Linked DNA regions of Homo sapiens. Changing the gene in region 2 together with the main gene of any one other region gives a genetic interaction. Each region holds a gene or a part of one and is shown on either strand. Other genes may lie near its edges.

Region 1 (3,500 bases), on a different chromosome or scaffold from region 2:
TGTGTGGATGAACATGGGGGTGGCGGTCTCGGGAGCTGCACCAAGGCGAATGCAGACTTTCAAGGAAAAGGTGGGGGACAGCAGATGAGACTGACATTTGGTCAGGCGAAGACTTCGCGGAGCGGGGAGAGTCGCACGCCTCTTGGTACTTGACTAATGCTTAGCTCCATTTCAGACTTATGGGAGAACAGCTGGGAAATGTTGCCAGAGGAATAAACATTGCCATTGTCAACTGTAAGTTACTAAACATTTTCTTTAAACTTCTCTAAAAGCTCTCTGGTCAGATTTTCAAAGGTACCTTGGGTTTTCGAGACTTTTGCGCGTGATTTAGTCTAGGTTTGTATTTTAATGCATTTTAAGATTATATACTCAATTATTTTTACAAGTCTCACTTCACAGATTATTTGTGGTTCTAACAACAAATAAACAACTGAAAACCAAATATAGACTTTATTTTAAAAAAAGAAAAAAACAGAGGGATAGGCCAAAGTTAGGGTTAACACCAGAAGGGCCGCCAAGGGGGTGCAGCCTGTGGTCCTGGACTGAGCCTCTCATTTGCTCCCAGAGTCCCAGTGTCTGCTCAGGGGCTGACACCATAGACCATCTCATCCTTCTGTGTGATAAAAGCCACTGCAACCTCGTGGGAAACAAAACTTGGCCTTTCTCTTAGGTCTGGAATAAAGCTCTCTCACAGTTGCCTTTGAGGGGCCCAGAGGAGAAGGAAAGGGTTTCCCACAACGTCCCTGTGAGTGAGTGGGCCGCATAGCCCCGAGACGTGAGGGCTGTGGAAGTGAAGATAAAATGCTCCCAATCTGACAGCCCTGAAGGAGGCTGTAAAGTAGGAAGTGGGCAGGCTGAGGGGGCTCTGGTGTTTCTGTGGGATGAGGCGGGTGGGCCTGGCTGAGGGGGCTCTGGTGTTTCTGTGGGAAGAGGCGGGTGGGCCTGGCTGAGGGGGCTCTGGTGTTTCTGTGGGATGAGGCGGGTGGGCCTGGCTGAGGGGGCTCTGGTGTTTCTGTGGGATGAGGCGGGTGGGCCTGGCTGAGGGGGCTCTGGTGTTTCTGTGGGATGAGGCGGGTGGGCCTGAGTGAGGGGTCTCTGGTGTTTCTGTGAGATGAGTTGGGTGGGGGAGGTATTAGTGTTCCATCAGGTGTAACCCAAAGCAAACTGGAAGAAAGTTCTAGCACAGCTTCCAGCACTTTCCTTTGACCTGGTTTTGGGGACTCTCCTCAAGGGGCCCGCCCTGTCTCTGCAGGCTGGGTCATTACATCAGTGGTGTTTGCTGGAGATAGACAGGGAAGAAATATTTCCTTCCCCAGGCCCTGGTGCCACAAGTGCGCCCTAGTTCTGTGAACTTTCTTTTAAAATACCATTTCTTTTATTTTCAGATGTAACTGGGAATGTGACAGCAACACGATGTTTTGATATGTATGAAGGTGGTAAGAAAATTTTTTCTGTTAAAATTCAAATGAATTTTAAACAGAAAATTAAGATTAAAAAGCACAAAGAAAAATGTCAACCATTTTTATTTTGTCTACTAGAAAAACGCCAGCAGCTCTCCTGAGTAATCTAGAGTGGTCTTATGTAGATCCTCTTAAACTCTAATTGAATTCATAGAACATTTGAAGGCATCATCTAGAAATGTCTTTTCTTCTGTTAGTTTTCCTCAGTCTTTCTCTTTTTAGCTCTCATGATATAATAAGAAAGAGAAAAAGCCTTTTTTTTAAAAAAAAAAAAAAGCCAAATACATTATATGTAAAATAAAGCCACCAGCATCCAGCCCTAAATATCATCATCCTTTGAAAGCTGTCACGATTACTCCTGGTGACTCACAGTGCTCTGCTGGGCTCAGGGCAAGCATTCCCGGAACCCACGGGTGCCCAGTCTTTCTCGATGGTCTCTCCTTTCTAGGCACTGACTCTTGACTGCAGTTGTTGGCCAGGATATACTATCCCCTCTTATTTTTATATATCAATGAGACTTTCAAAAACAAGTTTTTATAAAGATAGTGAAGACGAAGAATAGAAAACGCCTGCACCCACCCAATAAGAAGGACACAGTTGTACTCTGCAGTTAACCTAAGCAGAACAGTAAATAATGAGCCGCAGCGGTGAGTAACAGGGTTTGAGGTTTACCTTTATTTTATAAGGCATAGATAAGTCTCTTGGCACAGACTTGCCCACGGTCCACATGTCTCGTATTTGAGTTCTGTGGGAGTCTCTCTCCTGCACACGTCGGTGTGTTTGCAAGGCCACTCTGCTCAGTGGTCGTGGTGTGGGTGTGGGTGTGGCCCTTTATCAGTGACTACAGAGAACACTCCACCTGTGCCACACAGGCTGCTGCTTGTTAAGAGTTTGGTGATCTCATTTCTAAGGAGGGTTTTTTTTTTCTACCAGGGGCTCCACTTCTCTTGTTTGTTGGTCAAAAAAGCTCCTTATCTTGACCCCCTTTCACTACTGCCCTGAACACCTATTGCAAGTGTTAGGTTCTTTTCCTTCTACGCTGTGCCACTCACCTCAGATAGTCCCTATGGTACCCCAGTGAATGTTCACACGTCCAGAGCTAGCACACCATCTGCAGGGTTGAGCAGCGAGCGCTGGGACCCCCAAGGATTCAGAATGGACACAGAATGCAGGTGCAGGAGGAAGCCCAGCACCCAAGGCAGAGCCTCAGTGAACAGCAAAGACCCTAAAACTGACTTGCATCCCCCAATAGATAACTCTGGACCGATGACAAAGTTTATTCAGAGTGCTGCTCCAAAATCCCTGCTCTTCATGGTGACCTATGACGACGGAAGCACAAGGTGAGTGGGTGTAGGTCTGTCACAGCGGTGGGCAAGAGAAGCCAGCTGGGGCAGAGGCTGCCAGGGTCTCTCAGTGACATCCTCTGGGGACAAGCAGAAAGTCCAGGAGCAAAGTACTTCTCTAAGGAAAAAGAATGAAAGATCATGACAAAATAGATGGCATTTCTTTAAAAAAAAATTAAATCACTAACCACAGAAGTACTAGAACCTAAATCAAAGGAGTATTTCAAGGAATCAAGACAAAGCCACTGTTGACCATAATTAGGACAGACAAACTAACCTCCGGACAGAAAGCCTAAACCCAGGGTGGCATTAATAGTTACAGCAATGTGAAAGGAAATTGAGATAATTTCCCTATAGAAAGAGGAAAAGAGGCTGGGCGCAGTGGCTCACACCTGTAATCCTAGCACTTGGGAGACCGAGGCAGGCGGATCACGAGGTCAAGGGTTCGAGACCATCCTGGCCAACATGGTGAAACCTTGTCTCTACTAAAAATTAAAAAATTAGCCAGGCATGGTGGCATGCACCTGTAGTCCCAGCTACTCAGGAGGCTGAGGCAGGAGAATCGCTTGAACCCAGGAGGCGGAAGTTGCAGTGAGCCAAGATTGCACCACTGCACTCCAGCCCGGTGACAGAGCGAGACTGTCTCAAAAAAAAAAAAAAAAAAAAGAGGAAAAGAATAAAGAAATACACACATACA
Region 2 (2,629 bases):
AGACAAGAAGCACTGGTTCGGAGAATGGCTAAAGCACGAGCCTCATCTGTAAATGCAGCTCCCACTTCATTTCTTTAATGAAATATTAGTTGGAAGACTTCACGAAGACTGCTGATAACTATCTGTGATTGATAGGAAATTTTTTTTCTTGATTTCTCTGTGAGAAATGTAATGCTGACTTTTATAAAGCCTGGACTTCTACTTTATTTAATAAATCAATGTTTGCAATGGTAAATGAAACATTTCCTTGGACATGTATTTGAAAGTCATTAAATACAAAAGTTTTGGAAATTCAGGAAAGTTAGCAATTATGTACGGATATTATACAGAGGAAAGTAGTTATATTTTTAAATGCTATTATTGCAGAGGATCATCAAAAAAGAGGTAATCTACGTTATTTCCTATTCTAATGTCTTTTCCTAATAAAAAACTTCAACTTTCTAAGTTAGTAGAGACTGTTTTTGTAGTTTTACTTTCATTAACTGTTGCTTAAGGTTTTTATACACTTCCAGATTTTAATTAATACTTTCATATTTCTAGGAACATGGTTGATATGAAATAAAGGACTTTTTATTTGTAAGGAAATTATGTTCAGTTCTTAGAAGTGGATTTGAATTTTAATAATTCTAAAATGTGACACATTTTGGAAACTTTCCACCATATTTAGGAAAACTTTGATTTTAGAAGTCTAACATAGAGGAAAAGAAGTAGTGGATTGTCTACAAAAGTAATGTGGCATCATTAACATTTAGAACTGGCAGAAACTTCATATGTCATCTGGTCCAGCTTCCTTATTGTATCGGTGAGAAAAAGTAATACTGTTTTCAAAGTCATAGGCAAGTTAATGCTGTGCTACAATTAGAATGATTTATTTGGACACCTAAACAATTATACTATTTGTTTCAAAGTATCAGTACATAAAATAACTTGAGGGAGTATTATTTTCTAGTATAAAACAAAAGATGTAATTAAAAGCACAATAAGGACTGTTTGATAATAATGCTCATTGTTCCTTATTTTGCTTTAAAGAATTAGTCTTTCCAGGATATAAAAATGAGAATCTTTTTTCTTTTCAGTTTTTCTGTAACTGTAATTTTCCCCTCAATTAATTTACTTAGTTGACTCATCTTTTCTTCTCTATTACTGTTTTGTTTTTTTCTTTTTTTGCCATTTTGCCTATTTGGAATTTGCTAAACCAGTAATAGAAGTCCAACTAGAGGGCGTAAGGCAGGGAGGATGCTTTATTCCTCTTAAATGGTTTTAGGAGATCTAGAGAAAGTTAGAGATATGAAACACCTGTCATGGTGTGGCATTTATCACTATCAAGTGTCTCAAAGCTGTGATAATATGGTAGTTACTGCCCTATAGCTATACAGATACTCCTCAACTTACCGTGTAGTTACATCCCAATAAACCCATCATGAGTTGAAAATACCTTAAGTTAAAAATGCATTTACTACACTTAATCTACCAGACAACATAGCTTAGCTTAGCCTACCTTAAACATGCTCAAATCACTTATATTAGCCTAGAGTTGGGCACATCATCTGGCAATACGGCACACTGTAGAGTATCAGTTGAGCTGATGCCCAGCATCGTGAGAATGTTGTACCACATATCTCTAGCCTGGGAAAGAATCAAACTTTAAAGTATGGTTTCTATTGGACGCATATCACTTTTGCATCACGTTAGAGTTGAAAAATTGTAAGTCAACCATTTTAAGTTGGAGACTGTACATCAAAAATGGTATTTTCATATCTACAGTGGAGTACTGGAGTTTAGCTAACCTATATTATTTTTCCAGGAATATATAATAACCTAGATAAATGCAAGTAGTTTCTATGTACAAAAATAAAGAGCTGAGAATCTTTTACTAAAAGTGGCTTCACTGTGTTCTGACTATGCTTTGGATATCTCTGTCCTTGCTTAAGCTCCTCCCTGCTTACTGCTTGCTTTTTTAAGAGTACTTTTAGCCTATTCTGTTCATTCATTTAGACTCAGCCTAATAAGTCTGTTTGAACCTCGTACCTAACCATCTTCACTGGAATTGATTGCTTCTCTCTGATCATAATGGTACTAATTATTGTGTCTTTCATTGAGCAATACTATAATGCCTTTATGTGTTGTTTAGTTGTATAAATCTTATTTTATAATTTGTCATTTTGTGTCTCTGGTAATTCTGCCAAATTCTTATACAGCTCATAGTATTATTTACGTAATAGTTTTCTCTAAGTGACTCCCTTTTTTTAAAAAAAAAAAAAAAAAAAAAACTTTTATAGCACTTCTGGGTGGTGGCAGGTGTAATGGCCCTGTACATCTGAACCTCACATGACTGGTTTTTAGGGTCACTGCTCCTGTTCATACCACTCTCCTTTCCTATCCTGACTCTTCCTTTAGCCCTTGTTGGAAACATTAGGGGGTGAATGGCCCATAAATGAGCATGCAGAGGGCTGACTATATAGTTTGCCTGGCTTTTCTCTTTCCTAGTCTATAGGGAATCTGGGGAAGGGACAACTGGTAGCCTGGCAATTTCCCCCTAAAGTTCCGCTGCTGTTTCTGCATCTCAGACTGATGCTAATAATGCCATTATTTCCAAAAAGAGCCTGTTGAAAGCGGAGCTTATCTCTCA
Region 3 (3,500 bases), on a different chromosome or scaffold from region 2:
TGGCCCATTTGACTTCTAGTTTTATAAAATATAACTGACAGCTTCTGTTTCTGTAAAGCAAGATCATTTAAAAATTTAAGCGTGTTGTTTTTTTTAAGCTATATTTCCCTTTCTTTGGGCAATAGTATTTTTTGTTAGGAAAAAAAAGTTACAGTCTTGCAAAGGTGGTTGTGTATTTGAAATGAATAAAAGAATAAAGGGCTTTAATTTCTGGGTTGATTATTGAAGTTGTTTTAACTGTAATAGGAGAAAATAATGAATTTTTCTCCCAAATGTTACCACTTACTAGATTTTTGTTTGTTATTACCAAATTGGAACACTTTCTAGTTGTTTAAAAATCTATTCCAGTTAATGATTTTATTTGACATCAATTATAATAACGAAAACATTAAGAATTTTGCTAAATCAAATGACTGTTTTAGGCATTGGTAATTTTAGTTTGTTGCTGGAAGTCTTTTAGTACACCTTTCAGTTAAGTTTGTTAATGACTGATTTTATTAAGTAAATGATTTGAATGCTAAGAAAGATCTAATTGGAGGAAGGAAGCTAGTGTCATTGAGTGAGTGCCTGCTGTGTATACCAGGCTTTTCTTAATCCACCAGTAATTTTGTGAGAGATGTTATCCCCATTTTACAGATGAAGAAGCTTTCAGATAGGTTAACCAACTTGTTCAACATTACACCATTTAGTAAATTGTGGAGCTCAACTTAAACCCAGGTTTAACTTACCCTAAAGCTTACATTTTTTGTGCTACTCTGTGTTGATGTATTTTCTTCCTTCAAAATGGAAGAGTCTAAAATTTATCAAGAGTTTTATTATGATTATGATTCTAGGTAACATATGCAATTAAAATTCAACTAGTTGTCAGCTTGCTGATGTGGATAGGGTAATGCACAGAATATAACGTACTTCAAAATGAGTAGAACAGGATAGTCTATATTTAAAAAAAGTTTTCCTCCCTCATGCAGACGTGCACTGCTGCCTTTGCCACCAAAGACAGACTGCGGACACACATGGTGCGCCATGAAGGCAAGGTATCATGTAACATCTGTGGGAAGCTCCTGAGTGCAGCATACATCACCAGCCACTTAAAGACTCATGGGCAGAGCCAAAGTATCAACTGTAATACATGTAAACAAGGCATCAGTAAAAGTAGGTGGTGCTTCAGATTTTCTTTCTTTTATATTTCAGATGGGTGAAATATGCATGTTTTCATATTGTATCAAAGGTATTAATATTCACCTTACGTGTTTCCTCCTATTGCCAACATGTGCAAACAGGCAACAATGGACAGAGTATATTAATGTCAGAACTATGCTTTACTTTCATGTATGCAAACAGCATTGATAAGCTAATAATAACCTTTAAGGTGAAAGCAGTATTAATAAGCTTGCTTTTCAAACCCAAATCTGTAGAGAAATGAGATATCATATCCACTTGAAGGTTTAAATGCTTTGCTTGCCTTAAATTCAGAGTTGAAGATAGAATACTTGCATTTACCCAGGCTTTTTCTTTTAAGATTGCCCTAACCACTAGAAGAAGGCATTTTCCTAATCCTTTATTCTATTATATATGTACTTTATGCAGTAGAAACATCAAATTCTCAAAAAAATAGGTGGCCACAAGAGAATGGGGAAGAAAGCTTAATGTGTGTTAATCTATCCATTTTTACTTCTTTGTAAGTACACTGGGTTTGTAAGTACACTTCTTTGTAAGTACACTGGTATGTTGTACTTTATAAGCATTCACTTCTGTTTTTTTTGTTTTTTTTTTTTTTTTTTTTTGAGACGGAGTCTTCACACTGTTGCCCAGGCTGAAGTGCAATGGCACGATCTCGGCTCACTGCAACCTCCGCCTCCTGGGTTCAAGCGATTCTCCTGCCTCAGCCTCCCAAGTAACTGGGATTACAGGTGCACACTGCCATGCCCGATTACCTTTGCTACTTTTTTTGTATTTTCATAGAGACGGCGTTTCACCGTGTTGCCCAGGCTGGTCTCGAACTCCTGAGCCCAGACAGTCCACCTGCCTCGGCCTCCCAAAGTGCTAGGATTACAGGCATGAGCCACTGCACCCGGCCTATAAACATTCACTTTTAGTGTACATTATTGTGATCAAATAAAAAATTTTGTTGAATGTTGATTAGTCCTATATTAATAATATCAAACTTCCATTTTTAAAGACACTTGCTTTTTTTTTTTTTGATGGTTTTTTTTTTATAGCAAAGAGTCCTTTTCTCTTTTATATTGATTTTTGCTAGTTCTCTAGACTTTTTAGTGCTTGTTTATTTTGACCAATATAGACACAGCAGCAAAAAAGATGCACTTACTAAGAGCTATCAGGTTAAATGGTTAAGATCACAGAAGCATGAGAAGTCAATTTTGAAAAAAAACGGCAACAGTTTTACAGGTAGATACAGTGTTTTTGGTTTGTCTTTGTAATAGCATGCATGAGTGAAGAGACCAGTAACCAAAAGCAGCAGCAGCAGCAGCAGCAGCAGCAGCAGCAGCAGCAACAACAACAACAACAACATGTGACAAGCTGGCCAGGGAAGCAAGTAGAAACACTGAGACTGTGGGAAGAAGCTGTTAAAGCAAGGAAGAAAGGTAAGGCACAGCTTCCAGTGTTGAAAATATGGCTAGAGAAGTGTTTTCATTTAGTATGCCAAGTGATCAAAGTAGAGAAGCCACAGTTTTAGGAAATCTAGCTTAATGGAAACATGGAAATAGTGCATGCTGGGAAATATCTGGTAAAGTATAGTTATTGGCAATAAAGTGTCCAGATAAGTTATTACTAGGAATTAAAAGTTCTCAGTACTTCCTATCATGTTCTTTCTTTTGATGTACTTTTTGCTACAAACCTGGATCCAAATTTGGTCCTTTGCTATGCTCAGAGTTGCATTTTTATATTCAATTTGATGTCAACCTCCATGCATTATGGGCTTTTTTTTTCCTTTCTAAAATATTCCCACTTTTAGAGGTGGATATCCTTGTGTGTACATAAGTTCATTTTCTTACAACTGTGCTATTTTTGCTCTGTAGTGTTCTTTTTCATTGTATTATTTATTACATGTTTCAGATTCTGTAGTGTTGATGTCTTTTCTCTTGGTCACACCCTTAATCTCCTTCAGTCTATCACTGGCTGGCCTTAACATATCTAGTCTTCTGCTGCTGAGGACTTTACTGTAATTGTTTAAAAAATTTTAAATGGTTTGCTTTTCTCTCGTGTATATTTTCTAACGAATCAGTTGGAGTATCAGTTTTCAACGTACTTTTCAACTTACTAGTACAGCTTTGGCTTCTGGACTATTGTGCAGCCATTTCAAATGAATCATTTTGTCAATGTATCATGAGCCAAAGGACAGATTTGTAAATTCCTTCTTCCTCCTCCACCTCTACAATGTCTTACTATGTTAAATGTTAAGGAATCCTCTATCTGTGGGCTCCTCTGTATGTAATTCCTTTTCTGTGTAGTTTCTTCCATCTTTTGCTTTCATGTAGTGT
Region 4 (3,500 bases), on a different chromosome or scaffold from region 2:
ACATTGTGTGTGAGAGTGTGTGTCAGATGCCATGTGTGAGACACCAAGACACGGGTATGTGATACTCTGTGTATATGTGAGTCTGTGTGAGAGACACTGATACTCCAAGACATTGTGTGTGTGTGACACTGTGAGACACCAAGACAGTATATGTGCGAGACAGCCTATGTATGTGACAGTGTGTGTGTGAGACACCATGAGAGACTGTGTATTTACTGTGAGAGACTGTGTGAGAGACACGTGTGAGACACTGTGTATATGACACTATGTATACGTGAGACTGTGAGACACTATGTGTATGTGACACTGTATATGTGTGAGACCGTATGAGACAGTGTATATGACACTGTATATGTGTGAGACTGTGTGTGTGAAACACTATATGACACTGTATATGTGTGACACTGTATATGACACTATATGTGGAGACTATGTGTGAGACACTATGTATATGTGACACTATGTATGTGTGTGACACTGTGAGAGACACTGTGAGACACCAAGACAGTATATGTATGAGACACCCTGTGTGTGTGACACAGCGTGTGACTGTGTGAGACGTGTGTGAGGCACTGAGACTGACACTGTGTGTGAGGCTGTGTGAGAGTCAGTGTGTGTGATAACTGTGTGTGTATCACCGTGTGTGTGTGTGAGAGAGGGAAGGAGAGAGAGGGAGGCAGGTCAGAGGGAGTCAGGTGTCCTTGGCGAGAGTGGCAGCAGCCTGCCTGGAGGGACCCTGGGATGGCCATTTCAGCACCTAAGGGGTAGCCTGCCCGGGTGAGTCTCCAGTCCACTGTGACTCAGTCATTGTGCCTGTGATCCCCACCCTCCATCTGCTTGCTTCCCCCCCATTTGTCTTCCCCAGCCCCCTCCGCCCCTCCCCAGAAGGTGATGTGTGTGAGCATGGGCTCCACCACGGTCCGGGTAAGTTGGGTCCCGCCGCCTGCCGACAGCCGCAACGGCGTTATCACCCAGTACTCCGTGGCCTACGAGGCGGTGGACGGCGAGGACCGCGGGCGGCATGTGGTGGATGGCATCAGCCGTGAGCACTCCAGCTGGGACCTGGTGGGCCTGGAGAAGTGGACGGAGTACCGGGTGTGGGTGCGGGCACACACAGACGTGGGCCCCGGCCCCGAGAGCAGCCCGGTGCTGGTGCGCACCGATGAGGACGGTAGGCAGTGCCACCGGGGCGGGAGGGGAGGCGTTCTGCCTCAGACACCACCCACCAAGCTCCCCAGGGCCTTCCTTTCCTGAACACAGGCCCAGGTCAACTCATCTTTCTGGTTCAGGTGTAATGGCCTAAAGTGGGGGGATGTCACTTACGGGATAACTGAGGCCCAAATCCCAGCCTTTGGGGCTGTCTCCAAAGCAGCTGAAACCTTCACAGGCTAAGATGGGAGAAGCAGCCCTGTCTAAGATTTGAAAGGTCAAGATTGGGCAGATTGGTGTAAAAGATACTCAAAGTAGAATCAGCAAGACTCCACGTTGGCTGGACATTGGCATGATTGGGGCCTAGGAGGAGTCAGGACAGGTTGTGCTGACTAGGGGTGGTCAAAGACCTGGTGCCCCACCTCCACCTGTTCCCCCATGTCGACCCTCCCCACCAAGTGAGAGGCCTGGGCCAGAGGGGTGGGCAGGGCCAGTCCTGGGCTCTTACCCGTGGCGGGCAGAGGGAGCCTTCCGTGTGCCTCACCAGGGACAGATGATCTAAGGAAACTGTATCAGGGCCTTTCCTGGGGGAGTGGGGTGCTGAGGCAGGACCCTCAAGTTTGCTGTGCCCACCTGAGCTAGGGTTGATACCTCCAGGCCTGACTTCCTTCTCTACCTGACCCCCCAGTGCCCAGCGGGCCTCCGCGGAAGGTGGAGGTGGAGCCACTGAACTCCACTGCTGTGCATGTCTACTGGAAGCTGCCTGTCCCCAGCAAGCAGCATGGCCAGATCCGCGGCTACCAGGTCACCTACGTGCGGCTGGAGAATGGCGAGCCCCGTGGACTCCCCATCATCCAAGACGTCATGCTAGCCGAGGCCCAGGTGCAGCATTGGGTGGTGGTGGGGTGGCAGGGTGAGCACAGACCAGCATGCACAAGCTCCCTTTTGGGGCCCAGATATGTCCCTCTTCCCCTGCCTGCCCTCAGCAGTGCTGTGACTGCCTTTCCTTGGTTGTGAGACCCGAGATGCTTTGCAGCATCAGGGGTTAGGCTGGGGTTTTTTGGGTGTGGGTTTTTTGTTTGTTTGTTTGTTTTGAGATAGAGCTTCACTCTTGTCGCCTAGGCTGGAGTGCCTCCTGGGTTCAAGCAATTCTCCTTCCTCAGCCTCCCGAGTAGCTGGGATTACAGGCGTCTGCCACTGCGCCTAGCCAATTTTCGTATTTTTAGTAGAGACAGGGTTTCACCATATTGGCCAGGCTGGTCTCGAACTCCTGACCTCAGGTGATCCGCCTGCCTCAGTCTCCCAGAGTGCTGAGAATACAGGTGTTAGCCACTGTGCCCCACCAGGTCGGGGTTTTGAGATGTGCCTTTCCCCTAGACAGTGCTGGGCTGGCATCCACTCTTCCCACAGAAAGGGTAGAGAGAGTGCTCCAGGGCTGTCTTACCCCACTGGCGGCCATGGGTCCGTGGTTGCTGCAAAGCTCTGTGAGTAGCCAAGTAGAGTGTTGCCCTGCTCCTGGCCCTGCAGGGAACGATTCAGCCCCTGATGTTCACCCTCAAGAGCTAGGCCTGCTGGCCAGCCTCACACCTCCCTCTGTGCACATCTGTCTTCCTGGGAGGATGGTCCTGCCCTTGAGCTTGGGGTGAGGTCCCTGGGGTATTCTGAACACTGGTTGCTATTCAGATGAAGAACTTGGAATGCTGGGGGGTTATGAGAGTGGTATGGAATTATTCAGCAAGTAGGTGGCTGCTGCGCTTGGATGAGAAGCCATGTCTGTGGACCCCTAGGAAAGGGCCACAGTTGCTGTCATGAGCCCCCTCCCAAAAGACCCTGCTGGAGAGTCACAACACCTGGTGTGGTGCTCTCAAGGTCTCCCTATCCAGGAGCAGGGCCTCCCCATTGAGCCTCTCACCTCTGCCTGGGTGGAGAGCAGGGGTGCGTGTACCACTCAATGCTGTACACACTGTGCAGAGGGGTGGGGTCACCCACACAGACAGGAGCCTTATTCCTCCAGCTGGGCTCAGCCATCTGAAGCAAAATTCTTTCTGCCCAGAGGGTGCTCTCTTCCCCCTCTCAGCCTGCCCAGTGCTAAGGCATCCGGGGTGGAGGAGGCAGGCATGTGCACCCACCTGCATTCCTGGGGCAGGTTGAGGGCTCCTTGTGGAGCCTCAGTGAACACACCTACCCAGAAACATCCCAGGAATGGGTTCCCCTAGCCCCTCCTCTCTGAGGGGGCCAGTGGCCACAGCTGTGGCCAGTGGGGTTCCAGAGAAGCCACTTCAAGTGCCCCCTTCTGGTCCCAAGAGGTTCGGAAGGGAGCTGGGCCAGAGGCTCAGGGACGCTGCCCATTT

Evidence for each region.
Region 1: changes in ETAA1 (region 2) and FAM3B are lethal when combined (synthetic lethality), as found in Homo sapiens cells (one large-scale study listed by BioGRID).
Region 3: changes in ETAA1 (region 2) and VEZF1 are lethal when combined (synthetic lethality), as found in Homo sapiens cells (one large-scale study listed by BioGRID).
Region 4: changes in ETAA1 (region 2) and PTPRF are lethal when combined (synthetic lethality), as found in Homo sapiens cells (one large-scale study listed by BioGRID).

Annotation. Positions count from the first base shown.
Region 1 is NC_000021.9:41,344,301-41,347,800, forward strand, and holds part of FAM3B (protein FAM3B isoform a precursor), read left to right. Parts: intron 1-175; coding exon 176-234; intron 235-1,385; coding exon 1,386-1,436; intron 1,437-1,908; exon of another isoform or gene 1,909-2,107; intron 2,108-2,712; coding exon 2,713-2,800; intron 2,801-3,500. UniProt on the Homo sapiens protein: Induces apoptosis of alpha and beta cells in a dose- and time-dependent manner.
Region 2 is NC_000002.12:67,409,961-67,412,589, forward strand, and holds the end of ETAA1 (ewing's tumor-associated antigen 1), read left to right. Parts: coding exon 1-78; 3' UTR 79-2,129; downstream 2,130-2,629. UniProt on the Homo sapiens protein: Replication stress response protein that accumulates at DNA damage sites and promotes replication fork progression and integrity.
Region 3 is NC_000017.11:57,978,255-57,981,754, reverse strand, and holds part of VEZF1 (vascular endothelial zinc finger 1), read left to right. Parts: intron 1-950; coding exon of another isoform or gene 951-968; coding exon 969-1,152; intron 1,153-2,441; coding exon 2,442-2,603; intron 2,604-3,500. UniProt on the Homo sapiens protein: Possible transcription factor. Specifically binds to the CT/GC-rich region of the interleukin-3 promoter and mediates tax transactivation of IL-3.
Region 4 is NC_000001.11:43,596,883-43,600,382, forward strand, and holds part of PTPRF (receptor-type tyrosine-protein phosphatase F isoform 1 precursor), read left to right. Parts: intron 1-865; coding exon 866-1,171; intron 1,172-1,837; coding exon 1,838-2,031; intron 2,032-3,500. UniProt on the Homo sapiens protein: Possible cell adhesion receptor. It possesses an intrinsic protein tyrosine phosphatase activity (PTPase) and dephosphorylates EPHA2 regulating its activity.